Homo sapiens: one gene and its partners. The protein of the gene in region 4 interacts with the protein of the main gene of each other region in a biochemical or structural test. Each region holds a gene or a part of one and is shown on either strand. Other genes may lie near its edges. The genes, in order: SLC2A1, LRP2, RGS19 and GIPC1.

Region 1 (7,565 bases), on a different chromosome or scaffold from region 4:
GGAAGGGATGGGCAAAGATAATGAGTTCAGGTTTGAGCATGGTGAGTGTGAGGGACCTGTGGGACATCCAGAGGGACATCCTGGAGGCAGCTGGACAGAAAAGCCTGGTAGTCAGGAGAGAAGGGAGGGGAGTATGTGCCTTCAATTCCCCCAGCATCAGCGAGCAGGTGGTAGCCCTGATAAGTGCATTTGCAGAGGGTCGGAGGGCATACAGAAGATAAAGAAGGGATGCCGAAAAGCTTTCTGAAAGCAGGTGGTTCAAGCAGATGTGCAAATCAGAATGAAAACATTAAACACACAAAACTGTCCTGCCTGGCCCATCAGACCTTCCTGGAATCCATCACTGTGTTTACCTGCAATCCAGGAGGATTTGAATTGCAAAACACCCTTTGGATTAGGGGGGCTTCCGTCCCAGCCCCTGCTATCCCCTCTTGTACCAATTGTAGCTGACTCAGCAAAACCTTTCCTCCTGGCTGCCAGGGACGCTTGCCTTTAAAGGCAACAGAGTCTTTTCCCAGCCCGCCTTACTCACTCCTAACTCTGGAGCTGCTAGGACCCGCCCTGCACGGCCCTGCCACCACCACCATCACCACCACCACCCCTCCCCCACCCACTTGCGTGCTCTGAGGCACACACTAGGCTCCAGCATCCGCCTGGCACCTGACACCTCCCTGCTAGCCAGTCCCAGAGAGCTCTTTTCCTCCAGACTAGCTGGGGCTGGAACTGCTTAGAATCGGACCCAGAAGAGGCCGAGTTCCGTCCAGGACTAAAGGCAGCCTCCAGGGAATAAAGCTGTCAGTGTGGGCGCAGACTAGGGAAGGGGCACTAGGTCGTTCAAGCTGAATGCTGGGGTTCCACAGCCTCCTCACACCCCCTTTAGTGCCTCAGGTAGAGTAGGCTTGTGGGGACACTGAGGTTTCCTCAGGTCCTTTCCCTGCTCAATAACTCTCCATGGCTCGCCACTACCCACTGCATAAAGCCCTAACTCCTATACCTGGCATTTGGGAGCCTCTGTGATTCCACTTCTTCAGTCTCTTCTCCTCCCTAAGCCCCCATGCCCCAGCCACAGGGGCTACTTAGGTGCCCCTCCTGCTCCCCTTTCCCCTTGCACCCAAACCTTCTCTGCTCATGTGCTATTTCCTGGGGCCTTCTCTAGGGCTCATTCCCTAGTTGGAGTTAAATTCTGCTTCCAAGGAATCAGCCACCCAAATAACAAACCAGTCCACCTGAGAATCTAGTCTGTGATGCAGCGTCAATAGCTTCTGATGAATTTGCTTCTGACCAGTAGCCTCCAGGGGTCATAAAACATTCACAGAGAGGAACACAGAGAAGGTAATGGGGGTCTGTGTGTGGGCAGGTGGGGTGGGGTGGGTGAAGGAAAAGCTTTTTTTTGGCCACTGTGCTTTTTCCTCAAGCACCGCCCTACCATGGGATGGGGATTTGACTGAACTTCTCACGTCAAGAATGAGTACAGTTTACATAGCTAAGCCTTTATAAACATCCACTTTCCCTCAGGCCTACCCAGGAAGGGTTTGTTATATCTATTTTACAGATGTGGGTCTTCAGGCTCAGAGAAGAGAAGGCATTGTTTGCCCATGAATGTTTGCAAGTAAATAGCAGAGCTGGGACTCAAAGAGTCCGGATCTGGGGCTCCATCATGAATCTCTAAGAGTGGCCCAGAGATTCTCACGTTCCCTAGGTAATCATTCTGGCAGTCTGCTGCCTTTGCACATGCTCTTCTCTCTGCTGAGAATGGCCTTCCCTCAATCCATCTGGTGAACTCCTATTCAGTCTTCCAAACCCTGCTTAGCATGACCTCCCCCTTCCCAGATGCTCTCTCTACTCACTCTCCTTCCCCTGTGGTACAAGTTCTGCACCTGTACAGATTCTTAACCCTCTACGCTTGACTTGGTATTGTTGCTGCTCATTTCCCCTCTTGCTCCTCCTCCAGCTTGGGGCCTCCATGAGGCTAACAATGGGGTCACATGTCTCTGTCCCTGGGAAAGTGGCCAGCATGGGGCTGGCCCAGAGAAGGACAAGGTGGCTGTTTGGTGAGTGTGACCCATGGGCTGAGTAAGGCAGACCCGCAACTGGGAAAAGGCATAGACTGGATGTGCTAAGAAACAAGGAGCTGTGGAGAGACTTTGAGGAGGGAAGTAGCAAAACCCAAAAGGTACTTAAGGAAAGACTGGAAGTATCAGCAGGACGGACTGGAGGGGAAGGAACATTCAACACAGGTAGATTAGCTGCTCACTCATTCGTGCATTCCTTCCCTCCTTCAGTCATTCACCCACGTGCCTCAGCTGCAGAACCTGTCCTCAAGGTGCTCACAGGCTGAGGGAAGGCAGACAGAGGACAAGTGGCAACCTACAAAACACCAAATGGTAAAGGAGAGAAAGATTTCCACTTGGGAGAACCAGGGACACTTCCCGGAGGAGGAAGGACCCATGGTGCTTTTTGGCATGGTGAGGTCGGGGAGGGCTTCCCAGGCAGAGGAGACAAGCTGAGCAAATGTGTGGATGTGAGTTGCTGGTGTGAGGGGCGAGGCTGAGCGTGTAAACTGGTGCCATGAAGAAGGACCGTGATGGCCAGGCTTGGCCCTTACTCCCTCCATGACAATTTCAGACAGATGAGCAGGAGAGTGGCAGGGTGCAGGACTGGAGGACAAAAGACCAGAGGAGATGGAGGCCCTGCAGACAGCAGGGGAGGGAAGGAGGATGAGGTGGTGTAGACAGCGGAGTCAGCAGGACTTGGTCTGTCCAGGGGTGAGGAGAGAGGTGGCCCAAGCTTTCCAGGCTGAGCATAGAGAGACCACAGGAATTGAAGCCTTGGGCAGGGGGGTGCCCAGAATGCACCTGCCTTCTGTTTCAGGGCTCCATACTCAACCAAGGTGCCCCTCAGCCAGAACTGGACACATTGCCAGAGAACTCCAGGGGTCATCTGGTCGGCTCAGCCTCCCGGTTTCCGACAGACAGTAAGCCCACCATGACTCCCTCCATCGGGAAAGGGACCCTCAAGACTTTGATCAGACCTTTGGACTGGGGGTCCTTCCCTTCACTGTGTCTCAAGTAAGGCACTGGTCTAGAGGAAATAAGGTGAAGTCAGATGATAGCAATACCACTACCAGTGCAGTGGCACATGCCTGCACTCCCAGCTACTACGGAGGCTAAGGTGGGAGGATCACTTGAGCCCAGGAGTTTGAGACCAGCATTTATTTATTTACTAACAGACTAAATAAATAAACCAACAATACCACCAACCAGTAAATGAGAACTTCCATGCTAAACACTTCATGAGCTTATCTGGAAATTGCACCTCTCCTGATAGCAATGAGATTGGTGTGGGAATTCCATTTACTCATAAGAAGACAGCCTCGGCCGGGCTCAGTGGCTCACGCCTGTAATCCCAGTACTTTGGGAGGCGAGGTGGGTGGATCACGAGGTCAAGAGTTCAAGACCAGCCTGGCCAAAATGGTGAAACCCCGTCTCTACTAAAAATAAAAATAATTAGCCAGGGGTGATAGCGGGCGCCTGTAATCCCAGCTACTCGGGAGGCTGAGGCAGAGAACTGCTTGAATCCGGGAGGCGGAGGTTACAGTGAGCCGAGATCGTGCCGCTGCACTCCAGCCTGGGCGACAGAGCGAGACTCTGTCTGAGAAAAAAAAAAATTAAAGAAAAAAACGAAAACAGCCTCACTGGCCAGGAACTCGCCCAGGATCGCGGCCGGGCCAGTATACAGTTGAGCTGGTTCAAACCCGAGGTCTATCATGTCCTTAATGTCCTATCATGTCAGTCAGTTAGCCTGCCTTTCATATTTTCCACACTTACAGGTCACCATAGACTCACCTGAACTGTGAGAAGTAGAGGAAGGCGTCCCAGAGGAGGTGATTTTAAAGCCCAGGTTTGAGATGGGTATGCATTTCCAGGCAAGAGAGCCCGGCCGGTGCAAAAGCAAGGCTTGGCTCACAAACGGGAATGTGGGGGGTGGAGACAGGGAAGGGAGAAGTCAATCCCTGGGCAAGACCTCCTGGAGTCTCTCTAACAAATAAATACTACTTTCCATGCAGTAGACGCTGTTCTAAACACTTTACAAATATTAACTCACTTGGTCTTTCTACAACCCTACGAGGTGGTACTGTTACTATCCCTAGTGCACCGAAGTCACCCAGCGGCCGAGTGAGAACTCCAGTCCAGCTTTCCACCCGCTACTCCGCGCATCCCAGCTTGCCTTACAGCCGGGTACCGGCTCCACCATTTTGCTAGAGAAGGCCGCGGAGGCTCAGAGAGGTGCGCACACTTGCCCTGAGTCACACAGCGAATGCCCTCCGCGGTCCCAACGCAGAGAGAACGAGCCGATCGGCAGCCTGAGCGAGGCAGTGGTTAGGGGGGGCCCCGGCCCCGGCCACTCCCCTCACCCCCTCCCCGCAGAGCGCCGCCCAGGACAGGCTGGGCCCCAGGCCCCGCCCCGAGGTCCTGCCCACACACCCCTGACACACCGGCGTCGCCAGCCAATGGCCGGGGTCCTATAAACGCTACGGTCCGCGCGCTCTCTGGCAAGAGGCAAGAGGTAGCAACAGCGAGCGTGCCGGTCGCTAGTCGCGGGTCCCCGAGTGAGCACGCCAGGGAGCAGGAGACCAAACGACGGGGGTCGGAGTCAGAGTCGCAGTGGGAGTCCCCGGACCGGAGCACGAGCCTGAGCGGGAGAGCGCCGCTCGCACGCCCGTCGCCACCCGCGTACCCGGCGCAGCCAGAGCCACCAGCGCAGCGCTGCCATGGAGCCCAGCAGCAAGGTGAGTCGCGCGCCCGCGGGCCCTCCCGCCAGGAACAAAGGCGCAGACTCCTGCCCGCCTTACGCCGGCCAGGGCCTCCCCCGCCGCCCCGCTGCGCTGTGCGCCCGGGGCGGGCCGCGCGCCTCTCCGAGCCTGGCTCGGTGCGGGTCCCGAGCGCAGCGCCCCGCCGGGCCGCTGGCCGCAGTGGGGATGGGCTTCGGATCTAGCGGGCCGGAGGGCGCCGCGTGCGTAGTTGGCGCCGGCACTGAGCACATGGCCTCCTTCCGGGGGCGCCGCGCCGTCCACGCGGCCCTGCTGGGGCTGGGGACACAGGGCCCGGGAGCGGCACGTCGCACACGACCTCGGCAGCAGCAGCCCAGCCTCGGCCCCTCCCGGTGCGGGGGAGGGGGCCCGAGCGCGGCGCCCATTGGCTGAGCGGGCCGAGCCCCCGGCCCGGCCCCGGCCCCGGCGCGCGGAGGAGTCAGGAGCCGCCCCCGCTCTCCGTCTGCTCCCCTAGCCCGGACGCCCCTGTAGGTGGGCGGCCTGGTGCGAGGTGTCCCACCGGCCTCCCCTACTCCTCCCGCCAGTCCCCCGCGGTGACGAGGCCGAGGCCGAGGGGAGGGCACTTTTCTCCAGGCCCGGGCTCGAACGCGGGGGTTGAGATGAACCTCCGGTCTCGGAGGCTCTCCTTTGCGAGGAGTGCAGGCCCCAAAGCTTTGGCCCAGTCTCGCGGAGATGTGTTCCGCGGAGGCAGGTTTACCCTCGGGGCCAGGCGGGGAGCGCAACCGGAGGGGCGGGGGATCTGGGGGCCAGGAAAGAGCCCCAGGCTGAAGTCTAGCGGGAAGCGCGCACGCCACGGGGTTGGGGAATGAGGGATGGGGACTCTGGGGACCAACAACTCCCTAGATAGGATTTCTTTTTTTCTGTGTAAGTGGGCTTGTCCTGCAGGGCATCTTTGTAGCGTCCGCAGAGCGATTTCTTTTCAACAAATTGTTTGTGGAGCCCCTCCTGTGTGTAGGGCATTGTTTCTTTCCACCTCCTTTCCTCCCCCTAGTCTACAATATTTTCAAGTCCCCTTTTTCTTTTGAAACGGTCCCTCTTTATCTATTATACTTTGATTTTTCCATCTCGTCAGCTGGGAGGGCACCTGGATGGCCCTTGTTTTCTTAGCTGGGACGCGGGGGTAGCACTGAATTTTGAACTGCCCTTCCTACTGGCTGTGGAGGTGTCCCGCTGAGACTGAGCGGGGTGGCGCTGGGCCGCACCCTCGGCAGGAAAAGGCCTTCCGCCCCACACCTGTTGAATCCATAAATCCAGACGACTTGGTTCACCCTTCCTGGGCCCTCGCTTGAGGTGAGACCCCGGGGAAGTTCCCGGGGAAGGCTCCCAGGATCTTAGGTGAGCCGTAAGGGTGGGATATAACTAAACAAAAGTTCAGTGAGAAGCTCTTCTAGCTAGTGGCAAGGAAGTCCAAATATCTCAGGGCTCTTGCAGGCCACTTAACTTCTGGGCCTCAGTTTTTCCATCTGAAAGAGATCACTTTTGTCACTTCCTCTAGGGAAGGAACTATCTATTCAGCATACTATGCCAGACATGGGTATTTATTTGTTGAGTGGATAAGGGAATACTACGTGGAGACAGAAAAGTGGAGGAGAAAATCAGCAGGTTCTTAGCCAAACTACTTTAAGCGTCACGGACCTTATAGCCCTGCTGGTTACTCACTAGCCTGGAGCTCAGAGAAGGGAAATAAGTTTGCCAAAGTCACACAGCTAGTAAGTGGTTGAACTGGATTTGAACCCAGGCCCATCAGATTTAATTTCATTTCTGTCTCCACTGTCTCTCTTCACCACAACATTTCTTGAATTTTGGGCAGAAGGGAGAGAGTTTGCCTATCTTCAAAGGTGGCCCCTTGTGCCAGCTGGTTCTAAATAGTGTAGCAGGTGGGTGCTCTTCATGGAGTGTTCTCCAAGTTTTCCACTGTCTACCTCGTCAGTAATTAATGTTGGAACACCTCTTTCACAGTGGTGTATCTGTATTTTTATTTTTTTATTTTTATTTATTTATTTTTTGAGACGGAGTTTCGCTTTTGTTGCCCAGGCTGGAGTGCAATGGCGCGATCTCAACTCCCTGCAACCTCTGCCTCCCGGGTTCAAGCGTTTCTTCTGCCTCAGCCTCCCGAGTAGCTGGAATTACAGGCATGTGCCACCACACCCAGCTAATGTTTTTTTTTTTTTTTTTTTTTTTTTTGTAGTTTTAGTAGAGACGGGGTTTCTCCATGTTGGTCAGGCTGGTCTCGAACTCCCGACCTCAGATGATCTGCCCGCCTCGGCCTCCCAAAGTGCTGGGATTACAGGCCTGGGATTACAGGCGTGAGCCACCACGCCCGGCTGTATTTTTAAATTCATGCACATGCAGTTTGATACTAACAGATGATATGCCTTCATAAAATAGAAATTTCAAAAGACAGATAGATACAAGACAGCAGTTATAGTCATTTTCCCCTCCAAATCTTGTGTAGATCATTCCATATACATTCTGGAATAAAGCCCTTCCCTTTGGAGACTGCTGATTTGACCTGCAAGCACAGCCTTTTTGTGCATGATGTTAGAGGCCTGGGGAGGTCATATCGCTTGCCTTTCACACAAGATCTGAAAACCAGGTGTGTCTGGCTCCAAAGCCTTGGTTCTGCTATGTTCCTCTTTGTCTCCTAGGAAATGGGAACTGACTTAACTAACTTCCCCGTGTTCCATTGTGCTCCTCTGTAACTCACAGTAATGAGCTTAGCTGAATAGGAAGT
Region 2 (7,020 bases), on a different chromosome or scaffold from region 4:
TAAAATCCAATGAGATTGTAACAGCCTTTATTTAAGCACTACCTTTTAGGTAGGCTACCATTGCAAACTTCGCATCACTAAAAATTGGAGGGGAAAAAAAAGAGCTCTGAGTATTCTATGTTTAGTCTTTGAAAAAAATTATACCACATCTGTTGTTAAAAATTATTTGCATTTTCCTTATCTTTTGTGTAATGCTTTTCAAGAAAAAACATTTTGCAGAGTCTGAACTCGAGTCAAGCTGTTGGGTTCCAACATTGGCTTTACCACTTTCTAGCTGTGTGACCTTGGGAAAGTCAACCAACTTTGCATAGCTCAGATGGCTTATCTGCAAAATTGACAAGATAATAAGAGAATTTACCCAATGACATCTTGTAAGCATAAAGAGATAAAATATGCCAAGTGCTTAGCATGGTGTAAAGCATATAGACAGTGAAAATAAACTAGAAAATAATCTAAAAATACAATATTTTTATTATATTTATCAACCCTTAAAGTAACATATTGTTTTGCTTCCTATTCCTATTTCCATTTCCAATTTTCAAATATACAAAGGAAAGTCTTCTTTAAGCATTTTTCACTAACAGTTCTCTGAAGACTTCTCAGACCCTAGCATGTGATTGGAAGATTTTTTCTTTTTTTTTTTTTTTTTTGAGAAAATCGTATTGGCCTTAAACAAAGTTGTATTCTGTTTACTAATTAAAAAAACTTATTTTTCAAAAATAGAAATGGGGTCTCACTGTGTTGCCCAGGCTGGTCTTGAACTCTTGGCCTCAAATGATCCTCCTACCTCTGCTTCCCAAAGTGCTGACATTATAGGCAGGAGCCACCTTACCTGGTCCAACATTATATTCTTTAATCCAATAAAAATGTGGTAATGTTTTTAAGAGTTAGTATCAGCTTTTATGACAATTACATCTTCACATGAAGTTTATATGTTTAAAAGGATTGTGGGGGCAATAGCAAACTTGTATCGTTTTTATTCCATCACAACTCTGGAACCTCACTGCTGCTTTAATTTCACAGTTGTTGGCTTCTCTTTCTCTACTTGAAAAAGTTTCTCTTTACCAGTCTTCATAAGACTTCTGCCTGAACTCCCTTCAGTCATGCACCTGTCTCATTTTAATAGAAACTCAGACTTTTTACAGCTAGAGGGAACCTTAGATATCAACTGGTCTGCTTGCATTTTTTTTTTCTTACAGATAAGCAATTAGCCCAGGAGGGAGAAGAAAGGGGCTGAGAGGATGAAAGGGAAGGCGGTTAATAGGTTTCTTGCCTAAGGACATCTAGCCTGTGACAGAGCTAAGATATAAATTTGCAGTGGACCATTTTTTAGATTCATGCCTTCTGAATGTCCCCAGCCTGTTTGGTTGGTTGAGATTTCTAGATTCCTTTTGGAATCCTGACTTGCCAGATAAGGCACAGTCTGATAAGCAGATGAATCTTAAAAACAATTGGATGGGTTACCTGTCCCTGGCCAAAGAGGAATCCTGTGATAGGTTATTACAACCATGTACCATGCGCTTTCAGCTTGGTCCAGAACTGATGCCATGTCAGTGCCCCTACTCCCAAAGACCATACCTCCAGATCCATTTTTCAAATTCTTGAGCCATCAAAGCGCATTCCTGAAGATCTTTGGGTTTTGTAGTGCAGGCTGCTGTAAGACTAGGTTTTCAGTCTTACTAAAGGTAATTATTAGGTCATAATCATTGTTCATGTTCTCTAGTCAGGCACTGTAAGAACACTGAAAGGTTTTTAAAATATTTAAATTAAAATTTTAAATTATCATTTAAAAATAATGATACCAGGAACCTAGATGTATTTCCTGTGTAATCAGAAGCAAGTGCATTGTCATATTGGCTTTGGAGTTTCTGTTAAGTCCTAGTAGCTAGAACAAGGTAAGTAGAAAGTAGAAGGTGCTGAGCTGGGCGTGGGGGCTCATGCCTGTAATCCCAGCACTTTGGGATGCTGAGGCGGGAGGATCATGAGGTCAGGAGATCGAGACCTGCCTGGCCAACATGGTGAAACCCTGTTTCTATTTAAAACACAAAAATTAGCTGGGCGTGGTGACGCACACCTGTAATCCCAGCTACTCGGGAGGCTGAGGCAGGAGAACTGCTTGAACACAGGAGGCAGGGATTGCAGTGAGCTGAGATTGTGCCACTGCACTCCAGCCTGGGTGACAGAGCAAGAATCTGTCTCAAAAATAAAATAAAATAAAATAAAATAAAATAAAATAAAATAAAATAAAATAAAATAAAAATAAATAAAAAAGAAAAAAAAAAGAAAAGAAAGTAGAAGGTGCTTATGAAAGAGTGTTGAATGGATAGGAAAGGGGTTCTCAAGGTTGACTGCACGAATCTAGAGCAACTAAAAAAATACTAATTGTGAAGCCCTATTCTAGCATGGAAAAAATAAGCTTGATGGAACCTTTGGTATAAATCAAATGGTTCTATCGTATCCTATTAACTTTATAGTCTTGAGTAATTAAAAATTTTTACCACTATTGTGTATTCTGTGAATGTTTATTTTATTTTTTCCATGAATATTTATTAAATATCAACAGTGTGCTGATGAGTCAATAGTATCAATACTACAGAAACATTAAGGAAGATGAGAACTGAAAAGAGGTGTCTACATATCTCGCAATTAAAATGGACTGCAGTTTTGCATTTAAGATTCTGAAATAGTCATTGACTCATTCCTAATAACCCTGCCCAGGATCTCACCAGCATTAGAAAGATTGGAGATGTTTCAGCATCCGAGTTCTGGGATGCTTCTTGATAATGATCAGCTAGTAGTTGTTTTGAAATGTCAAGAGCATTTCTGTGGTTCTTCACATGTTCCTAATGCAAATGTTTCCGAAGTAATTTCTTGACAGTTACAGTGTTTTGAGATGAAGTGGGAAGGGCTTGTGATTTTGAAGTTGGAGGATCTTGGTTTGATTCCTACCTCTGCCATTTATTATCTGGGAAATCCAGTACCACACATGCTGGGTGCTCTGGGGCAGTTTTCTTATCTGTAAAATGGACATATATCTACCTCACGGGGTGGTTATGCAAAGGCAATGAATGTGAAATGTTTAATAAACTGTGAAGTCTCATATAGATTTCCATTCATCATTATTACCCAATACGAGAATTTTACTTTTTCCAAACTTGAGAGGAGGAAGATGTTGCAGTATTTTGGTATCTTCTTTACCGTGGGTCTGAGAATGATGCACCTGTGCATGTTGTTACATCCTTACAGTGGCTACCACAACTTCACATGTTATTCAGTACTGTTATGTTGGTGAATGTCACAAAACTAAGTTAAACTGTCTGAGGCAAAAAAGGAAGGTTATTGAAATACATAGTTGAGGCTGGGTGTGGTGGCTCATGCCTATAAATCTCAGCACTTTGGGAGTCTGAGGTGAGCGGATTGCTTGAGCCTAGGAGTTTGAGACCAGCCTGGGCAACATAGTGAGACTCCATCTCTACAAAAAATACAAAAAATTAGCCAGGAATGGTGGTGTGCCCTTGTGGTCCCAGCTACTTGGGAGGCTGAGGTGAGATGATCGCTTGAGCCCAGGAGGTCGAGGCTACAGTGAGCTGTGATCATGCCACTGCACTCCAGCCTCAGCGACAGAGTGAGACCCTGTCTCAAAGAAAATAAATACATAGTTGAAAAGATACAGATAATTAGGTTGATCCATTTGAGATTGATTTTTTTTCCTATGCAGAAATAGTCAAATATTGGCAATTTCATTTGGTTCAACCTAATATAAAATGGAGGCTCAAACTATGTCAGGCCAATCTTGTCTTTTTTCCGTCTCCTGGCTCTGAGATGACTCCATTCTTAAACATGTTCTCCTTTGATGTAAAGCGGCTGTCAGTGGCTCTGGAGCCACCTCCTATCAGATCACATCCACTGGGAAAGAAAAAGAGTTTTTATCTTAGCTATTCCCAGCAAAAGTTTCAGTTGCATCTCAGGGTCTCTACTTAGGTCATAAACTCATTGGAGAACCAACCACTGAATCCCGGGTCATGATGTGTTCCCATGGCTTAGGCTTGGGCTGTATACTCAGTCTTTGAGATCATGTATGAAGGGGTGGAGTCCAGAGAGAAATGGGGGTAATTATTGGGAGAATGGTGAACAGAGGCTGGGATGCAAAAATAACAGGTGTTCAGTATACCTTATCAGATAAAATTGACTGACGATGTTATTTTCATTTTGTATGTGAAGACACACTTGAAAAAGCTACAGAAATTTCTCAAGAGCTGGCAGCCCTGGGGTAACTTACAGAATTGAAAGGAATAAAGTATTGGAAACATTAAGAAAAAAGACATGGTGATCTGTGCCCATGTGACCATGTTGCAACTTTAAGTTTAGAAGGAGAACAGGAGAAAGAAGGACTTTTAGAAGGTTTATTTGGATCCTAAAGTTTTCTTATTTGGAGCAGAGCTTTGTGATAGACAGGAAAGTTCTGGAAAATGAGCTGAGCGATCAGACTACAGGATCCCTTAAGTCTGGTGCAGTATTTCATTTTTCTGTGAATCTTAGGCTCCTACTCCTTTTCCAATTTACTTCACTCCAATGTTTATGTTCCTAAGAGTTTGTCTGTTTTCCAAGCACTAGTCCTTTGCTATAAGGATGGGGTAGAGAGAAAGAAGCTTAAAGAGTTTGCAGACAGGTTAAGATGCTTCTGTGGAGACAGAACACATCTTGGTGCACATCTGAGTGTCCTTAGCACTTCATCTATGGACTTCTTTCATAAATGGTAGAACACGTATCCATCACACCTTATTGGATTAATTCAGAAATGCCAGATATATGTACTCTTTGCTGATGGTTACTTTGTTGGTCTCTAATTTAAGTCTTATCTCTAATCACATTAGCTGAGAAAATGGAGACATTATCATTCTAAAAATAAGATGGTTAACTTTTATATTAGGACACTTCTGATTTAGGATAGCACTGAAATTCAGTGCAAAGAAATGTAAGTCTTTCCTAGATAATGACAGATTAGACAATTTGAAGTTTCACTTTTGGTCATTAGCCCTCAGGTCATGCCTGACCTCAAGGTTACTGGAAACAGTGAGAAATGAATGAAAGGAGGAAATGTAATTACCATTCTGTGCATTGAATAGTTGAGCCACTGTTACCATGGATACAATGGCGCATTTATTGTCCAGATCTTGAGATCCAAGTTTGTAAGCAATATCCAAGGTCTCCTTTAAATTTATGTACTATCAGCGAATAACACATGAAGATTCCTGGTAACTTTGAAAATAAGTCTTTCCTCACTGATCTACTGATTCACATTAAGTAAGAGCATGTGTACTTTTGAAGGTGTTGAGGAAACCTGAAAAAGACGAAAAGGAAAGTAGCTACACTTCTGTTATGCTGGACATTCTTGGATTCCTCTATAAAAATATTCTGTCTTATACTGTCAGTGATTTGCTTGTCACTTTGGGCCCAGTTCTTTGGTTTTTATGTCATTAACAAGGAGAAAATTTCCTGAGTAAAGGTTGAAAAAATCAAAATCGTTTATTTTTATTTTTTGAGACAAGGTCTTACTTTATCACCCAGGCCAGAGAGGGTCTCACTTTATCACTCAGGCTGGAGTGCATGGCTCCCTGCAGCCTCAACTTCCCAGGCTGAAGAGATCCTCTCCGCTTAACCCCACAAGAAGCTGGGACTACAGACACATACCAGCACTCACAGTTAATTTTTATATTTTTTGTAGAGATGAGGTTTCTCCATGTTGTTCAGGCTGGCCTCAAACCCCTGAGCTCAAGTGATCCTCCCGCCTCAGCTTCCCAAAGTGCTGGGATTATAGGCGCTAGCCACCATGCCCGGCTGAAATCATTTATTTTGTCAGGAAATTCTTAAAGTTGAATTTAAGAATGAAAGTATTTTATCAGAAATATGGCAATCCTACCCACATTTTAATCTCACTAGAAGGGGGGTGATACATGCTAGCATGTACTTCCACACTGGTTTAATTTTGATGTGGGGAAGGGTGTGGAGAATACTTTTTGTTGCAAGAAACAGAAAACCCAACTCAAAATGGCCTACACAATAAAGGGTATTTCTTGGCTTATGTGAGTAAAAAATACTGAGGCAGAGTGGGGTTCAGGCGAGGTGCAGTCAGGGCTCCAGTTCTCTTTCTTTGTGTTTTCCTTGACCCTACTCCCCCCTAAGTTTCACCTTTGTGTGCGGTCTGGCTTCCCATATGATTCTGATATGGCTGCCAGGGCAAATGGGGCTACGTGTTTCCTTGATCCTATCCAGGGGGAATCCAACTTTGAGAAGGTTTTAGTTATGTTCTCAAAAGTATTATTTCATCACAATAACTTACAGATTGTTAGAATTTCTAAGGACCCTAGACAAAGTCAGCTAGCTCCCCAAACTTGACATATCATCAAAATCACCTGAGGAACTTAAAAAAGTATAGAGATTCTTAAATCAAAACTCACCCTTACTAAAGCAGGGGTATGAAAATCTGTGTTTTTTAAAAATTTTATTTTATTTTACTTTCAGTTCTGGGATACATATGCAGAATGTGCAGGTTTGTTACATAGGTATACATGTGCCATGGTGGTTTGCTGTACCTATCAACCTTTCATCTAGGTTTTAAGGCTCACATGCATTAGGTATTTGTCCTAATGCTCTCCCTTCCCTTGGCCCCCACCCCCTGACAGGCCCCGGTGTGTGATGTTCCCCTCTCTGTGTGTGATGTTCCCCCCCCTGTGACCATGTGTTCTCATTGTTCATCTCCCACTTATGAGTGAGAACATGCGGTGTTTGGTTTTCTGTTCCTATGTTAGTTTGCTGAGAATGATGGCTTCCAGCGTCATTCATGTCCCTGCAAATGACATGAACTCATTCCTTTTTATGGCTGCATATTATTCCATGGTGCATATGTGCCACAACCAACCCAAATGCCCATCAGTGATAGACTAGATAAAGAAAATGTGGAAAATCTGTATTTTTAAAAGTTTCAAGGTGATTCTGAGGGCTGGACCAATTTTTGGGAAC
Region 3 (6,832 bases), on a different chromosome or scaffold from region 4:
TCCCCAGGACCCCGAGGGAAGCGGGGAGTATGGACGCTGCCTCTCCCATGCACCTCACAGACATCAGGGTACAGAGAGTGGGGCCTCTCCCAAAAAAGTGGGGAGACGCAAGTGGGTGGGTGTGAAAGTAACAGGTCAGGGACACGCCTACCCCTAATCCCGATCTGCCCCCCACTGGCAACCTGGCGTTCTGTGGGTCTATGGGAGGCCCCCAGTCTTGGGGAGGACGGAGAAAGAGCCTGTTTCAGCAGAAGTCACCCCCAGATGTAAGGGTAGCCTCAGGCTGCAGTGGTCTCGAGTGCGAGTCATCCCACCAGGGGGCCAGGGAGAGGGCAGTGCTGTGGGCAGCGGAAGTGACCTAAGCTGGCCTTTGAAGAAGCAGCAGCTGTGCCCAAGAGGACCAAGAGACTGGGCAAGGGGAACCCCTGCGGCCCCCAGACAAAAATCCCACCCTCTGGCCTTCCTTTCCATCCTGAATAGCCTCCTGTGACCCCTTTAATGCCCCATGCCACACCCCCACACCCACCCCCCCACACACACACACCCCACACACACTCACGCATGCAGTACAAAAGGAAGCCACCCCTGTCCCATTCTGACAAACAGGCCCACGACCTACAAAATCCCTGGACTCTGAAAAGCCCCGAGGTTTCTGGGCAGACCTTACTTTTCTCCCCGACGTGAGCTCTTTGCAGACGCTGGGGCTTCCCTAGGCCCCCGCTTCCTTTTCCTCCCTCCCAGCCCCCTGCCCAGCAGGCTGCACAGAAGCGGGACCGCAGGAACTCAGACAAACCGCTCCTCCTGCTAGGGGGCTCCAGCTGACTGGAAGGAGGGGCAGAGGTCAGAACTGGGGTCCAGAAGGGATCCTGCTCCATGGCAGCCAGTGTTTCTCCCCAGCCCCGGCCAGGGGGTGGAGCCCTGCGCACTCGCCCCTCAGCCAGCCCTTCTCCCCGTGCACCGAGCACTTTACTCTTTCTGGGCTGTTGCTGCCCTTGGCCTTGACCCAAGCCCAGACTGTATACAGAGCTCAGAAGTCAGCTGACAAGGAGGGGACAGAGAGATGGCAGGAGGGGTTTCAGGAAGGGAAGGGTAGAGAGGAAGGAGGCCAGGGAGAAGGGGCTTGAGCAGGGGCAGACAGACAGGGAAGGGAGGCAGTCTGTCCAGGAGTGGCAGCCACTCACACCCTGATGTGCTTGTGACATGTGATGACAGCCAGCCCTGGTGTCGTCTGGCCAAACTCCCTGCAGCCTGGACCCCAGGATTCTGTGTCTTGGGGATTGACTGAGTGCCTAGAATGAGTTCATCTACTGGGAGAATCACATATTATTTCACCATTTCTCTGAGACTCCATTTCTTTATCTTTAAAATAAGGGTCTTGGTGCAGTACCCCACAGCAGCAAGTGCTCCAAAGGGGATGGGTCACTCTGCATCAGACAGGCAAGAGGGAAGAGGGGCAGAGACAGGCACAGCAGACCCAGCACCCAGAGAAGGCCAGCAAGACAGTGACCTCAGTGACTGCACCAGGGTCAGGCCGGCACTCGGGCCCTTTGATCCCCATGAAAAGGCGCAGGGGGTGCTGGATGTGCAAAGGAGGCTGGGGAATGGGGCCTGGAGGGACGCCTGCCTGTAGAAAGCTCTATGGGAAGGAAGGCATGTGGTCCAAAGCCCAATATATTGAGGGCTGTCAGGGCGCAGAGGGTCCTGGGTTCAAATCCCAGCTCCGCCATCAACTGCCCAGCTCACCTGGCCCCACCCATGGACTTCAGGATGCTGTGTGCCGAGAGGCAGAAGCCAGGGCGGTGGAGAGCAGGCCCAAGGGGCCAGAGGAGACGGGGGAATGACTGGGGGGTTGTAGAGTGACCCGAGGGGGCAGGGAGGGCACTGACCTTCACCCCCTGCCAGCTGCCCACAGCTGCATTTTCCCACAGCAGAGACAACAGGCCGGCTCAGCGGGGTCAGCCTGGTTGTGTGTGGCCTGGGCCAGGTGCTGGCCCATCTTCGTTGAGCTTCCCTGACCTCACCTGTGCCCACCGCTCAGGAGTGTTATGTGGGCTGAATAAGTAGCAGCCTGCCTCTTGTCCCTGTGGGCTTCCTGGCCCCTGCCTTTCCTTGCCTGGCCTGACAACATGGCAGTCACAGGGTTCTGGGTACAGCTTCGAGAGGCAGCCTGTCTGTCCTCCAGGGCCCTCTGACCTCTGACCTCCCCCTTCGGGCCCCCGCCCCCGCTCAGCAGCGCAATACCCTCCCCTCCTCAGCCCTCCCCCCTCTCACCCAGGCCTTCCCTGCCTGCTCCCCACAACTCACTCTGCGCCCCCCAGCATAAGATCCAGGCTGATCTATGTTGCTGGCTTCTGGTCCTACTGCCTGGCCCACAGGGGCACCCAGATACTGATACTTGTCCGTTGAATGAGGAATACAAGTAGAATCTCCAGCTGCCTTTGCACCCCTCAGAGTTCTGTGAAGGTGTAAGGTGTGCACCTGACCTGTGCAACTGGAAGGCATTTTATGAACAGATCCCGACACTGGGAACTATCCGGGTGGAGTGCTTGTGCTGGGGAGGACAGGAGCTGCACACAGCCGGGCCAGGGGAGGGGCGGGGGGCACAGATGCTCTGCAGACACTTCCAGAGCAGGGTCAGGGCCACCCTGACACAGGGCCAAAGCATGCTGCGATGAGAAGCCTAACCCACGTCTGTACCGAGTCATAAAGGATGAGAAGAGTCGGCCAAAGGGACAGGGCGTTCGTGGCAAAGGGGACAGTGTGGCCTTAAGCTTTAGGACATCTTGGGACACACGGGTCAGCAGGGACTCTGCCAGGCCCCACAGGAGACATTCGGCATGACTCCGGATGCAAGAACCCGCACCCCCAGTTCTCCCCAGCCCCGCAGCACAGGAATCTCCCCCTTCCTTGGGAACCCCCCACAGCACAGACAGGCGGCTCTTAACCCAGTTTTACAGACGCGGCTCACGGAGGCGAGGGGTGGGCCGGGCTGGCGTACCCGCCGATCGGTCCTTTGCAGCAGCCTCCTCTTTCCCAAGCTGGGCAAGCAGCATATGGGGCCCAGCTCTCGTGCCTCCACTGTCGTGGAAGTCCCACACGGATGGCAAAGCAGGAACGGCCCCGCCGAGCAGAGTCGGGGGCCACGGCCACACCCCCATCTACTACCGTGCGGCTCCGTCCGCCCGGGAGCCAGGGCTCCACTATGAGCACCTCGACTCTCCGGGCCACCCCCAGGCGACTGTGGGGGCCGACGCGCGGGCGGGGCGGGTGGGGTGCGGAGCCGGCCGAGCGCGGGGCGGGGCGCGGCGGGCGGGGCGGGCCCGGCGACCGCCGGCGCGAGGAAGTCCCGGCCCCTGGCTTTGGGGAAGTGCCGCCGAGGCGCCTGCGCACTGCGCCCCCGCGCCCCCTCCCCGACTGTCGGGCCGGACCTTGGAGCGCGCGGGCCGGCGGCGGCGCGAGTGGCTCGGGAGCGCGGCTGGTGAGTGCGCGCGCGCAGCGCCGGGGACAGCGGCCCTGCCCCTCCCGGCCCGGGCCCGGGGACCGTGCTGGGCGGGAGCTTCGGGAGCCGGCGCACGGGACTCGAACCCCAAGGGCTCCCGCCGCCAGGTCCACGTGGACCCTGGGCCGCAGTGGAAGTGGAGCCCGCCCCCCGCGCGTGGGGGAGGGGGCGCCGCAGCCGGGTTCCCCTTTTTCTGGAGCTCAAAGCCTGGGGAAGTGATTGCTCAAAGGTGGGGGCCGGAAGAACCCAGGTTTCCGCGTCTCCCTCCCCCTCTCAGCCCGGTGAGGAGGGGCCGGGGCGGGACACCCTGTCCGCCCCCGCCCCCACCCCGCTGGATCTGGCAGCCACTCAGCCCTTCGAGCTGTAGGGGAGGCGCTGCGCCCCCGGCCCCAGCCGATCGGGGGCTCCTGGCGCTAGCCTCCCTCCAGAGCGCCGCAGGAGTCCCTCCTGCCGTCTGACTTGAGTCCCTGCTGCTGCAGTGCACGCCCCTTCGGCAGCCAGGGTGGGGCCCAGACCCAACCTGGCCCCTCCTGCCCCCACCCCGCCTTTGGGTCGCTGGTGAGTAGGGAGCTTTGAGGTAGGGGTGGGGGCGTCAGAGGCTGAAGAAAGAGGCACCTGGAGGAGAACACAGGCTTCTCCAGACTGGACCCTAACAGCAGAGAGAGGAGCGTGGTGGGTGGGCCACCACCACCATTTCAGAGGTGGGGAGAGCTGGCCTTCCCTGGAGGGGCCAGGCCAGGGCTCGCCCACCAGCCAGATGTGGAGGGTGGCAGATGGGAAAGGCCCTGGGTAGGAGCTAAGGACTGAGAATGGAGCCCCTCTTCAACCCCCCTCCCAAAGGTTATGACATTTTTTTCTGGGATTGTCACATTTTCTTATTCTTTTTTTGGACTGGGCAGGCTCTGGGACGTTCTTTTTCCTTCTGTGGAGCAAAGCGGCAGCCACTCCCAAGGGATCCTCTATCCCCAGAGAGCAGACGTGCCGCCTATCCAGCCTATCCCATCCCAGACTTGGGGGCCAAAGCCTGGGAGGCTGGGGAAGGGGGTCCCCAATGCCAGGTTGACAAGCAGGAGGACCCTAGTTGAGACTCTGTATCCCCCAGGAGAGACGGGGGGAGGGTAGCCTGGGGACATGGGTTGCCCCAGTTGACCTGAGAAGGGTACAGGAAGCCAGGTCCAGGGACAGGTGACCAGGTCCAGGGCCTGCAACTGGGAAAGAAGGGGCTGGCTCCCTGCTCTGCAGCAAATGCAGCCCCTAGCACCCCGGCCCTGCACCCCTAAACACGTCCCCTCCTCCAGTTCAGAGCTGGGGTGGAGATGGTAGCCCAGGGGGACAGTCTCAGGGGTGCTAGAGTGTGGGGGAGGACCCTGGGTGGGGACAGAGAGGAGGAAGAACTGCTGCCTGGGGAAGCCACAGACAGCCCCGTCTGGGTACAGCTACCAAACCTCAGGTTGCCACGCCCCTTCCTTTCCCTAGAAACTTGACCCCTGAAAGAAAGCCCAGCTGCAGGGCTACTTTCGGTCTCCTCATCTACTTGCTAGGAGCCCGTGGGACCCCCAGTCTCAGAGGAAACTGGGCCGGTGGTGAGGGGCCAAGGTCCCAGGGGATGCTGCACCTGCCCCAGACTTGGGCCAGGGCAGTGGCCTCTGCATGCCCAGGCCTCGGGGGTATTGGGGGCCCTAAGAGTGCAGAACTCCAGCACTGTCTCTTCTGAGGGCCATTCACACACCGTCCCAGGAGGCCAAGAGAAGCCAACCAGCCAGAAACAAGCATTCAAAGGCCACGAGCTAGGGGAGGCGTGGCGGGGGGATGAAGATTGAGAAAATAAAGTAGAATCAAGTTGTGAGCTTCCTGGCCAGGGAGGGTGGCGGCACATGAGGAGGGTGGCGGATGTGCACGGAGGCCCCTCCCTGCCCTGGGCAGAAGTGGGCGCAGGTGTTCACAACTGCCTCCGGGGCACTGATTGGCCCCCCTGTACCATCGCCCAAGGAGACTTGGGATTCGAAGTGGCATCTTAGGTGGCATGAGGGCCACTCACAGCTTTGGCGCTCCTGGTGCACCTCCCCTGCAGACGGTGCAACCAAATGCTGGGAGGGACATGCACCACACCACACCCCCCTCAGGGACTCCGAGGCTTCGACTGGGGAGCAGGGTGCCCCCCACCCCTGCCACCCCCACTTCCCTGGCTGGCGCACCCTGTGGTAGGGCCTTGGTTCCACAGCAGTTTCACAGCCTAGAGGCAGTGGGCAAGGAGGGAGGGAAGTCTTGGGTGGGAGGTAGCAGGACCAAAGAACCATGTTTGGGGGGCATGTCCCTCCTCACCGGGGCCCTGCCCCCCTTCCCACACCCTCAGCAAGTCCAGCCTGAGTCCCACTTAAATCCTCACTGCTGCAGGTCTAGCCTGCTGCCCCTGGCTGAGACCTCTGGGACCCACAGACAGACCTGGACTCTTGGTGGGAAGCCACTCTGCCCACTCCCCACCCCAGACACCCTAGAAGCCAGTCTGGCCACCACCCGCACGCACCAGTTGGTAGCCCCAGACTCTCGGGGCCCCTTTGGGAGGGGCTGGGAGCCGGAAACCAAGAAAGAGGAACCCAGGCTTCCGGCTTCCCAGGGAGTGAGCGGATGGGGGTGTCTCGGAACCTCCAGTGGGGGCCTCATCTGGGGCCCAGCCTGGGAGGAGGGGCCAGAAGCTGCTGCAGCTCCCTCCTCAATGATCCTGGACCCCCTCCCAGCCCTGCTGTAAGCTTGGGGTCGGGGTAGAAGCCCTAGGCAGAGCTGGGTCCAGAGGCAGGAGCAGGCCCCGCTAGGGAGACACCCTCTCAGGACCCCTCCTAAGGGGTAGGCAGGGGCTGGGGTTTCAGGTTCTCAGTCAGAACCTTGGCCCCTCTCCCCAGACCCCCAGGCTGTGGTGAGGGTCTGAGAGCTGGTACCACGGAGCCTGGGCAACCTCCTCCGCCCACCCATGCCCACCCCGCATGAGGCTGAGAAGCAGGTATGCCACCTCCCCCTCTGCCTCTGCTCCCCTGGGGGAGATGGGGTGGGGCAAGCTGAGGGGCCACAAGGAGCTGGGAGATCCCTGAACACCCGGGAGGCCAGAAGGGTCATGTGCCTGGGAACAGGGCTACCCATGGGAAGGTGGGGGAGAGGTGGAGAGTCTGGTGGGTTCTGACCTGAAAGCTGAGGTAGCCCCACTTTTCCCCAGATCACAGGGCCAGAGGAGGCGGACCGGCCCCCTTCAATGTCCAGTCATGATACAGCCTCTCCAGCGGCCCCCAGCCGCAACCCCTGCTGCCTGTGCTGGTGCTGCTGCTGTAGCTGCTCCTGGTGAGT
Region 4 (7,842 bases):
GCGTGGTGGCATAGCCTGTAATCCCAGCTACTCGGGAGGCTGGGGCAGGAGAATTGCTTGAGCTCAGGAGGCAGAGGTTGCCGTGAGCCGTGATCACGCCACTGCACTCCAGCCTGGGCGACAGAGCAAGATTCTGTCTCAAAATAAATAAATAAATAAATAAATAAAATAACAAAACCAAAAAACGTAGAATGAAGAAATGAAAATGGGGCCAGGCGCAGTGACTCACGCCTGTAATCCCAGCACTTTGGGAGGCCAAAGTGGGCAGATCACGAGGTCAGGAGATCAAGACCATCCTGGCTAACACGGTGAAGCCCCGTCTCTACTAAAAATACAAAAAATTAGCCATACATGGTGGCGGGCGCCTCTAGTCCCAGCTACTCGGGAGGCTGAGGCAGGAGAATGGCATGAACCTGGGAGGCAGAGCTTGCAGTGAGCCAAGATCGTGCCACTGCACTCCAGCCTGGGAGACAGAGCGAGACTCCGTCTCAAAAAAAAAAAAAAAAAAGGAAACTGTGGAAGAGTCAGGTGCGGTGGCTCACTCATGCCTGCAATCCCAGCACTCTGGGAGGCCAAAGCGTGCGGATTACTTGAGGCCAGGAGTTCAAAACCAGTCTGGACAACATGGTGAAACCCGGTCTTCACTAAAAAATACAAAAAATTAGCTAGGCATGGTGACACATGCCTCTAATCCCAGCTACTCGGGAGGCTGAGGCGTGAGAATCGCTTGAGCCTGCGAGGTGGAGGTTGCAGTGAGTTGAGATCACATCACTGCACTCCAGCATGGGTGACAGAGTGAGACTCTGTTTCAAAAAAAAAATAAAGAAAATGTGGAAGTATAAGTTTGCCATATAGGGATGAAAAGGCCTTCTTTTGTTTTGTTTTGGGAGATAGGGTCTTGCTCAGTCACCCAGGCTAGAATGCAGTGGTGTGATCATAGCTTACTGTAGGCTTGAACTCCTGGGCTCAAGTGATCCTCCCACCTCAGCCTCCTGAGTAGCTGGGACTATAGTCCAGTGCCTCCTTTTCTGGCTAATTTTTATTATTTTTTGTAGAGACAGGGTCTCATTATGTTACCCAGGCTGGTCTTGAACTCCTGGTGTCAAGCAATCCACCTGCCTCAGCCTCCCAAAGTGCTGGGATTACAGGCATGAGCTAGTGTGCCCAGCCAAGCATTCTTAATATAACTTCACAGTGAGTTCTATTATATCAAAATTAAGAATTTCCCTCCAATGAAGGATATCATGGGTGAAGCAAATTTTCCCCTGACAGAGTGGGAGGACAAATATACAATGTGTAAAACTGCACCTAGGTCATCAGGAGAGTTACATGGTTTAATAAATAGGAAGTTCTTGGAATGATGCCTGGCACATAGGAAGCTGTAGCTCATAGCTCACTGTAGCCTCGACTCCTGGGCTCAAGTGATCCTCCTGCCTCAGCCTCCCGAGTAGCTGGGACTACAGGCACACAGCACCACACCCATTTTTGTAGAGATGGAGGTCTTGCTATGTTGCCTCGGCTAGTCTCGAACTCCTGCCCTCAAGGGATCCTTTCAGCCTCAGCCTCCAAGTCACTGGGATTAGAGGCTGCAGCCACTGCACTCAGCAAAACAATGATGTTCTAACGCACACAACCTTCCCTTCTGCATGTGTTAGCTGGCATTCAAGGATGGAATTTTTTTCTTTTTTCTGTTTTTTCTTTTTCTTTTTTTTTTTTTTTTTTTGAGACGGAGTCTCGTTCTGTTGCCCAGGCTGGAGGGCAGTGGCGCAATCTCGGCTCACTGCCAGCTCCGCCTCCCGGGTTCACACCATTCTCCTGCCTCAGCCTCCTGAGTAGCTGGGACTACAGGCGCCCACCATCACACCCAGCTAATTTTTGTATTTTTAGTAGAGACGAGGTTTCACCATGTTGGCCAGGCTGGTCTCGAACTCCTGACCTTGTGATCCGCCCGCCTCACCCTCCCAATGTGTTGGGATTACAGGCGTGAGCCATTGCACCCGGCCTCTTTTTTCTTTTAAAGGAACAGAGGTAGCGCTCACATCTAAGCTGCTCACCATTGGACTTCCCAGCCTCAGCTTTTAGGCATTCCTCTTGAGCTATAAAATCGGGAAGGAGGGCTGGGCATGGTGGCTCACACCTGTAATCCCAGCACTTTTGGGAGGCCAAAGAGGGAGGATGGCTTGAGCCCAGGAGTTCAAGACCAGCTCTGTGCAACATGGTGAGACCCTGTCTCTATCAAAAAACAAACAAATGGGCCTGGCACAGTGACTCATGCCTGTAATCCCAGCATTTTGAGAGGATGAGGCAGTTGGATCACTTGAGGCCAGGAGTTCGAGACCGGCCTGGCCAACAGGATGAAACCCTGTCTCTACTAAAAATACAAAACTAGCCAGATGTGGTGGCGGGTGCCTGTAATCCCAGCTAATCAGGAGGTTGAGGCAGGAGAATCGCTTGAACCTGGGAGGTGGAGGTTGCAGTGAGCCGAGATTGCGCCATTGCACTCCAGCCTGGGCAACAAGAGTGGAACTCTGTCTCAAAACAAACAAACAGACAAACAAAGGAATAGACTGCGTGCAGTGGCTCATGCCTGTAATCCCAGCATTTCAGGAGGACGAGGCAGGTGGATCACTTGAGGCCAGGAGTTCGAGACCAGCCTGGCCAACATGGCGAAACCCCGTCTCTTTTAAAAATACAAAAAATTTAGCCGAGCATGATGGCGCACGCTGTAATCCCAGCTACTCAGGAGACTGAGGCGTGAGAATTGCTCGAACCTGAGAAGCGGAGGTTGCAGTAAGCTGAGATTGCACCACTGCACTGCAGCCTGGGTGACAGAGTGAGGCTCCGTCTCAAAAAAACAAACAAACAAACAACAACAACAACAAAAATTAGCCAGGTGTGGTGGTACATGCCTGTGGTCCCAGCTACTCGGTAGGCTAAGATGGGAGGATTACTTGAGCCTAGGAGGTGGAGGTTGCAGTGAGCTGAGATCCTGCCACTGCATTCCAGCCTGGCCAACGGAGCTAGACACTGTCTCAAAAAAAAAAAAAAAAAAATTCAGAAAGGAGGTGCCCAGTGCTGCTCTGTGTCTTGAGCAATCCCACAATCCCATCACCCCTTCTCCGGGCACTTCCTCATCAGGAAACAGGAGCCAGTTGGAGTCTGGCTCAGGACTCTGCAGCCTCAGTCATGCTGTCCCCTGGGCTCAGCATCCCGTCCTCTCCAAGTGTGCAGGGGGCAGCTTAGATGCCAGGCTCAAGCAGGGCAGGCAGCACAGTCCCACAGAGGGTACTGGCCAGCCCAGGCAACTGATTGCTCAGTGGGATGGCAGAGGTCAGCAGAACAGGAAGGGACGGACAATAGCTGTGCCTGTTGCCTGGCCTGCCACAGCAATCTCGGTGTTTGCCAGCTGGGTGGGGCTGGCTAGGCAATCCTCAGCAGCAAAGCTCAAGGTTCCATCTCCCATTTTAGTTTGCCCCTCTGCAGGTCCTGGTGGGACTGATATGCACAACATCTCACCCTGGGAACTGCAAAGAACCAGTCTTTCTATGGAGCTTGAGCAGGGTCTCAGCACTTAGAGGCTTCCAGGAACTACAGTTCCCAGAACACACAGCATTCAGCCCCAGTTGCTGTCCAAGTGGCTGGGTTTGAACTAGAACAAGGAAATCTCACTTGTCCCGGGAACTGAGCGTCCTGGCCTGGTCCAGGTGCATTTGTGACTCTTGTTTCTTGGATCTGTGTCCACCTGATAAATCCCCCTTCCTTATAAACTACATGGTCTATTTGTCCACACAGGTTTGCTGAGAACCTGCCGTGTGGCAGCCTGAGGTGGGAGTGAGGGGTTGACAAGAGAGACTCAGCCTCCACCCTCACAGTCAGATGGAGGAGACAGATCTATGAAAGGCTGGCTGGGTACCTTCTGTGACCTAGCACATAAACAAACCAACAAGCAGATAAACTATCTCACCCTTGTCTTTCATTGCATCTTGCCTTTCCACACTGATTTACTAGCTCCCACGATATTGCAGTATCCTAAAGCGTGCTGTATCTCTCTGTCCGGCTTTTGCACGCTCTGTTACCTCTACCAGGAGCACATTCAGCTTATTCACTGACGCGTCTTCAGAGGTAGGACAGAGTCTGGCACGGAGCAGTCTGGCACATTAAATATTTGATGAGTGAGTGAACGAATGAATGAATGAATGCCTTTGTCCATTGTACAGCCCAGGAAGCAGGGAAACTCGGGACCCTCCCTATTCATCTCGATCCCCCGCCCGCCCCCAGAGATTGAATGCATCTTTTTATCCGCTCCGAGGATGGCCAGGCTGGGGCAGAGGAGGCCGGGCAGGGAACTGGGTTGGGGACTGCCATTGACCCCCACCCAGGTCTCCTAAACTGTCCGCTTTCCTGGACGTCGGAAGTTCGAATCCTTTCCCCGAAACCTGGCCTAGGTCACCTGACTCCCCCGCCCCTCACCACCCAGGGCACCCGAGACTGACACTCAGCCGACAGCACGTGGTTCAGGGGCCCCAGCTTCCTTCCCATTGGCCGCTTGTCTCCTTCCTCCCTCGCGATTGGCCGGGGCCCAGCTGCAGCTCCCCCCCCTCCTCAGCCCTCCGGTGGTACAGCCAGCCGCGGCTTAGGCGGGGCGGAACGGTCCACTGCTTCGCGGCGAGGGGAGGAGTCGGGAAGAGCCGGGCGAGGCGGAGGGATCCCTCTGGAATGTTTCCGTCGGGTCCACCCGAAGCGGAAGACGCGGATTGGCTGCGAGCACCGAGAGGCAGCCGCTGATTGGCCGGCCGCGGGCGTCGGCCCCGCCCCCCAGGCGCCGCTGCGGGAGAGGCCCGGTCTGGAGTTTGCGGAGGGCCGAGCCGGGTGCGCACGGGGAGGCGGAGGCAGCGGCGGCGGCGGCGGCGGCGGCGGCGGCGGCGGAGCAGGTGAGTGGCCTCTGCGAGAAGGATGTGTCTGCTCCGGGGGCCTCGGGGGTCGCGGGCCTGCGAGGATCCGGCCGATCCTGCAGGGTGGGGCCGGCGCCGTGGACGCGACTGGAGGTCTAGGCTGCGCGCGGGGATGCCGGAGGCCCCTTCCCAGGGGAAGCGGGGGTGGGGGGTGGTGGGGGCAGCTCCCTTCCTGCTGGCGGGCAGGGGACAAACGCCTCCCAACGCTGGGCTGGGGTTTCTGGGCTTGCCCCTCCCCCCGTCCCCCGGCTGGACTGTCCCCATCCCAGCGTGGACAGGCGCGGGGTCAGTGTTTCTGACCCTTTCCTGGGCACTTCCCCTGAGCTAACCGCGTCTGAACCCTCCAGGGCCTTGGGGGGGACGCAGTGAGGACCACGGTCTGAATAATAATCGTCATGAAAAACTCCACCTCAGCTAGCATTTATTGGAGAGCTTCCGTGTCAGGCATTTACCATGAGGATAATTGACTCTAAACACCTCATGGGAGGTGCTGTGCCTTCTTGTAAAAAAGGTGAGGCAGCCTACCCAGAGAGGTGGAGTGACTTGCCCAAGGTCACACAGCTAGTAACTGGCACATCTGGGACTGGAACTCATGCCCCAGGGTCCAGAACTGGAGTCACACCCACTAGACTGGATACCAATAACTCCACGGCTCAGTTGTTGCTGAGTAGCTCCGGCCCCCTACCCCTCCCACCCCCTACCCCGTACTCATCATCAGGGCCACACCTGCTGGTCTTTTGCTTTACCAGCCACTCAAACAGGAAGCTGCCCTCCTTTCCCTTCTCCCCAGAGCTGGAGAGGGCAGGTCTAACTACCTGGGTCCAGAGAAGAGAGTGGCGTCTGCAGGGGGCCAGGATGCTGGGGTCTGGGCCCACTGGGTTCCCCCCTGGCAACCTGGGCCGAGGCTGGGAAGTAGGCGTTCTCCCCGGAAACACCCAGGAGCCGGTTTTTCAAGAGTGAATCAGAGGCCTCTTTCCCTCCTTCTCTCCAAAGCAACACTGTGCTGGAACGGGGAGCCTGGGCGTGGTTTCCCCCTTCCCCTAGCTTCTGTGTGCTCCCAGGAACCCCCTTCCCCTCCTCCTGCTGGCCACACTGCTTCTGTGTGGCCGTGGGGTTGCTAAGTTTCAGGCCCTTCCCAGGATGAGGGGGTGAGGATGCTGAAATTCCAGCCCAAACACTCAATATCCGGGCTGAAGTGGCTCTTCATCTCTGTGTTCAGGTGTGAGGGGAGCCAGGGAAAGTGGGGAGCCTAGGACAGTTGGCAACCGCACAGCAGGCATGTTTAGGGGGCTGTTTCAAGGATGGGGAGCACAGAGAGCAATCAGAACGAGGACCTGAGACACATTCATTCACTCAGTCTACAAATATTTAGTGAGCACCTGCTACGTGCATGTGCTAGGCACTGTTCTTGGCACAGAAAATGCAACAGTGAACAAAACAAAATCCCTACTTTTGAGGAGTTGGCACTCTGAAAGGAAGGAAGCAGCCAACAAACAAGTTAGCAAGTAAATAAAGAAGATAATTTCAGATGGCACTAACTGCTATGAATAAAATATGAGCGGGTGGTACTGTAGAGAGTAGTTGTGGGCAAGGGGTGCCAGCCCAGCAAAGATCAGGCAAGGGGGCCCGGGCGCGGTGGCTCACGCCTGTAATCCCAGCACTTTGGGAGGCCGAGGCGGGTGGGTTGCTTGAGGTCAGGAGTTTGAGACCAGCCTGGCCAACATGGGGAAACCCTGTCTCTACTAAAAATACAAAAATTGGCTAGGGGCATGGCTCACCCCTGTAATCCCAGCACTTTGGGAGGCTGAGACAGGTGGGTCAAGAGGTCAGGAGTTTGAGACCAGCCTGATCAACATGGTGAAACCCCCTCTCTCCTAAAAATATGAAAATTAGCTGGGTGTGGTGGCGCACGCCTGTAAGCCCAGCTACTCAGGAGGCTGAGGCAGGAGAATCGCTTGAACCCGGGAGGCGGAGGTTGCAGTGAGCTGAGATCGTGCCACTGCACTCCAGCCTGGGCTACAGAGCGAGACTCCATCTCAAAAAAAAATAAAAATAGGCCAGGCGTGGTGGCTTATGCCTGTAATCCCAGCACTTTGGGAGGCCGAGGCAGGCAGATCACCTGAGGTCAGGAGTTCAAGACCAGCCTGACCAACATGGAGAAACCCTGTCTCTACTAAAAATATAAAATAAGCTGGGCGTGGTGGCACATGCCTGTAATCACAGCTACATGGGAGGCTGAGGCAGGAGAGAATCGCTTGAACCCGGTAGGCAGAGGTTGCGGTGAGCCAAGATCGCGCCATTGCACTCCAACCTGGGCAACAAGAATGAAACTCCGTCTCAAAAATAAATAAATAAATAAAAATAAACAAATACAAAATAAAAATACAAAAATTAGCCGGATGTGGTGGTGCGTGCCTGTAATCCCAGCTACTCAGGAGGCTAGGGCAGAAGAATCGTTTGAACCCAGGAGGTGGAGGTTGCAGTGAGCTGAGATGGCGCCACTGCACTCCAACCTGGGTGACAGAGCAAGACTCCATCTCGAAAAAAAAAAAAGAGAGAGAGATGGGCAAGGCCAAGGTCTTTAGGCTGGACCAAGTTTGGAATCACATGGTTGGAGCAGAAGATGAACCCAGAGCAGCGATTCTGCAGGGGTTTGTGGGTCACAGTAAGGAGATTGCAGTTTTTCTTCCAGAAGGTGGGAAACTGTTGTAAAGTTTCAGGCAGGGCAGTGATGCCATCTGGTTTACGTTTTAAAATAGAGACATGAAGTTAAATGACAGCCTGAAGCTGGAAGACAAGAGTTCTGCCAGGGCAGCATGCAATTAAGTTCATGGGCCTGAGCCATCTGTACCACAGGGGCAGTTCCAGCATGCTGGGGCAAGCCTGGGAG

The links.
Region 1: the proteins of GIPC1 (region 4) and SLC2A1 form a complex in vitro, tested with the Homo sapiens proteins (one study listed by BioGRID).
Region 2: the proteins of GIPC1 (region 4) and LRP2 form a complex in vitro, tested with the Homo sapiens proteins (2 studies listed by BioGRID).
Region 3: the proteins of GIPC1 (region 4) and RGS19 form a complex in vitro, tested with the Homo sapiens proteins (2 studies listed by BioGRID).

Annotation. Positions count from the first base shown.
Region 1 is NC_000001.11:42,955,858-42,963,422, reverse strand, and holds the start of SLC2A1 (solute carrier family 2, facilitated glucose transporter member 1), read left to right. Parts: upstream 1-4,554; 5' UTR 4,555-4,771; coding exon 4,772-4,789; intron 4,790-7,565. UniProt on the Homo sapiens protein: Facilitative glucose transporter, which is responsible for constitutive or basal glucose uptake. Has a very broad substrate specificity; can transport a wide range of aldoses including both pentoses and hexoses.
Region 2 is NC_000002.12:169,352,529-169,359,548, reverse strand, and holds part of LRP2 (low-density lipoprotein receptor-related protein 2 precursor), read left to right. Parts: intron 1-7,020. UniProt on the Homo sapiens protein: Multiligand endocytic receptor. Acts together with CUBN to mediate endocytosis of high-density lipoproteins. Mediates receptor-mediated uptake of polybasic drugs such as aprotinin, aminoglycosides and polymyxin B.
Region 3 is NC_000020.11:64,076,519-64,083,350, reverse strand, and holds the start of RGS19 (regulator of G-protein signaling 19), read left to right. Parts: upstream 1-3,832; 5' UTR 3,833-4,057; exon of another isoform or gene 4,058-4,200; intron 4,201-6,090; exon of another isoform or gene 6,091-6,124; coding exon of another isoform or gene 6,125-6,241; intron 6,242-6,340; exon of another isoform or gene 6,341-6,396; 5' UTR 6,397-6,464; coding exon 6,465-6,494; intron 6,495-6,704; coding exon 6,705-6,826; intron 6,827-6,832. UniProt on the Homo sapiens protein: Inhibits signal transduction by increasing the GTPase activity of G protein alpha subunits thereby driving them into their inactive GDP-bound form. Binds to G-alpha subfamily 1 members, with the order G(i)a3 > G(i)a1 > G(o)a >> G(z)a/G(i)a2.
Region 4 is NC_000019.10:14,493,126-14,500,967, reverse strand, and holds the start of GIPC1 (PDZ domain-containing protein GIPC1), read left to right. Parts: upstream 1-4,840; 5' UTR 4,841-4,931; intron 4,932-7,842. UniProt on the Homo sapiens protein: May be involved in G protein-linked signaling.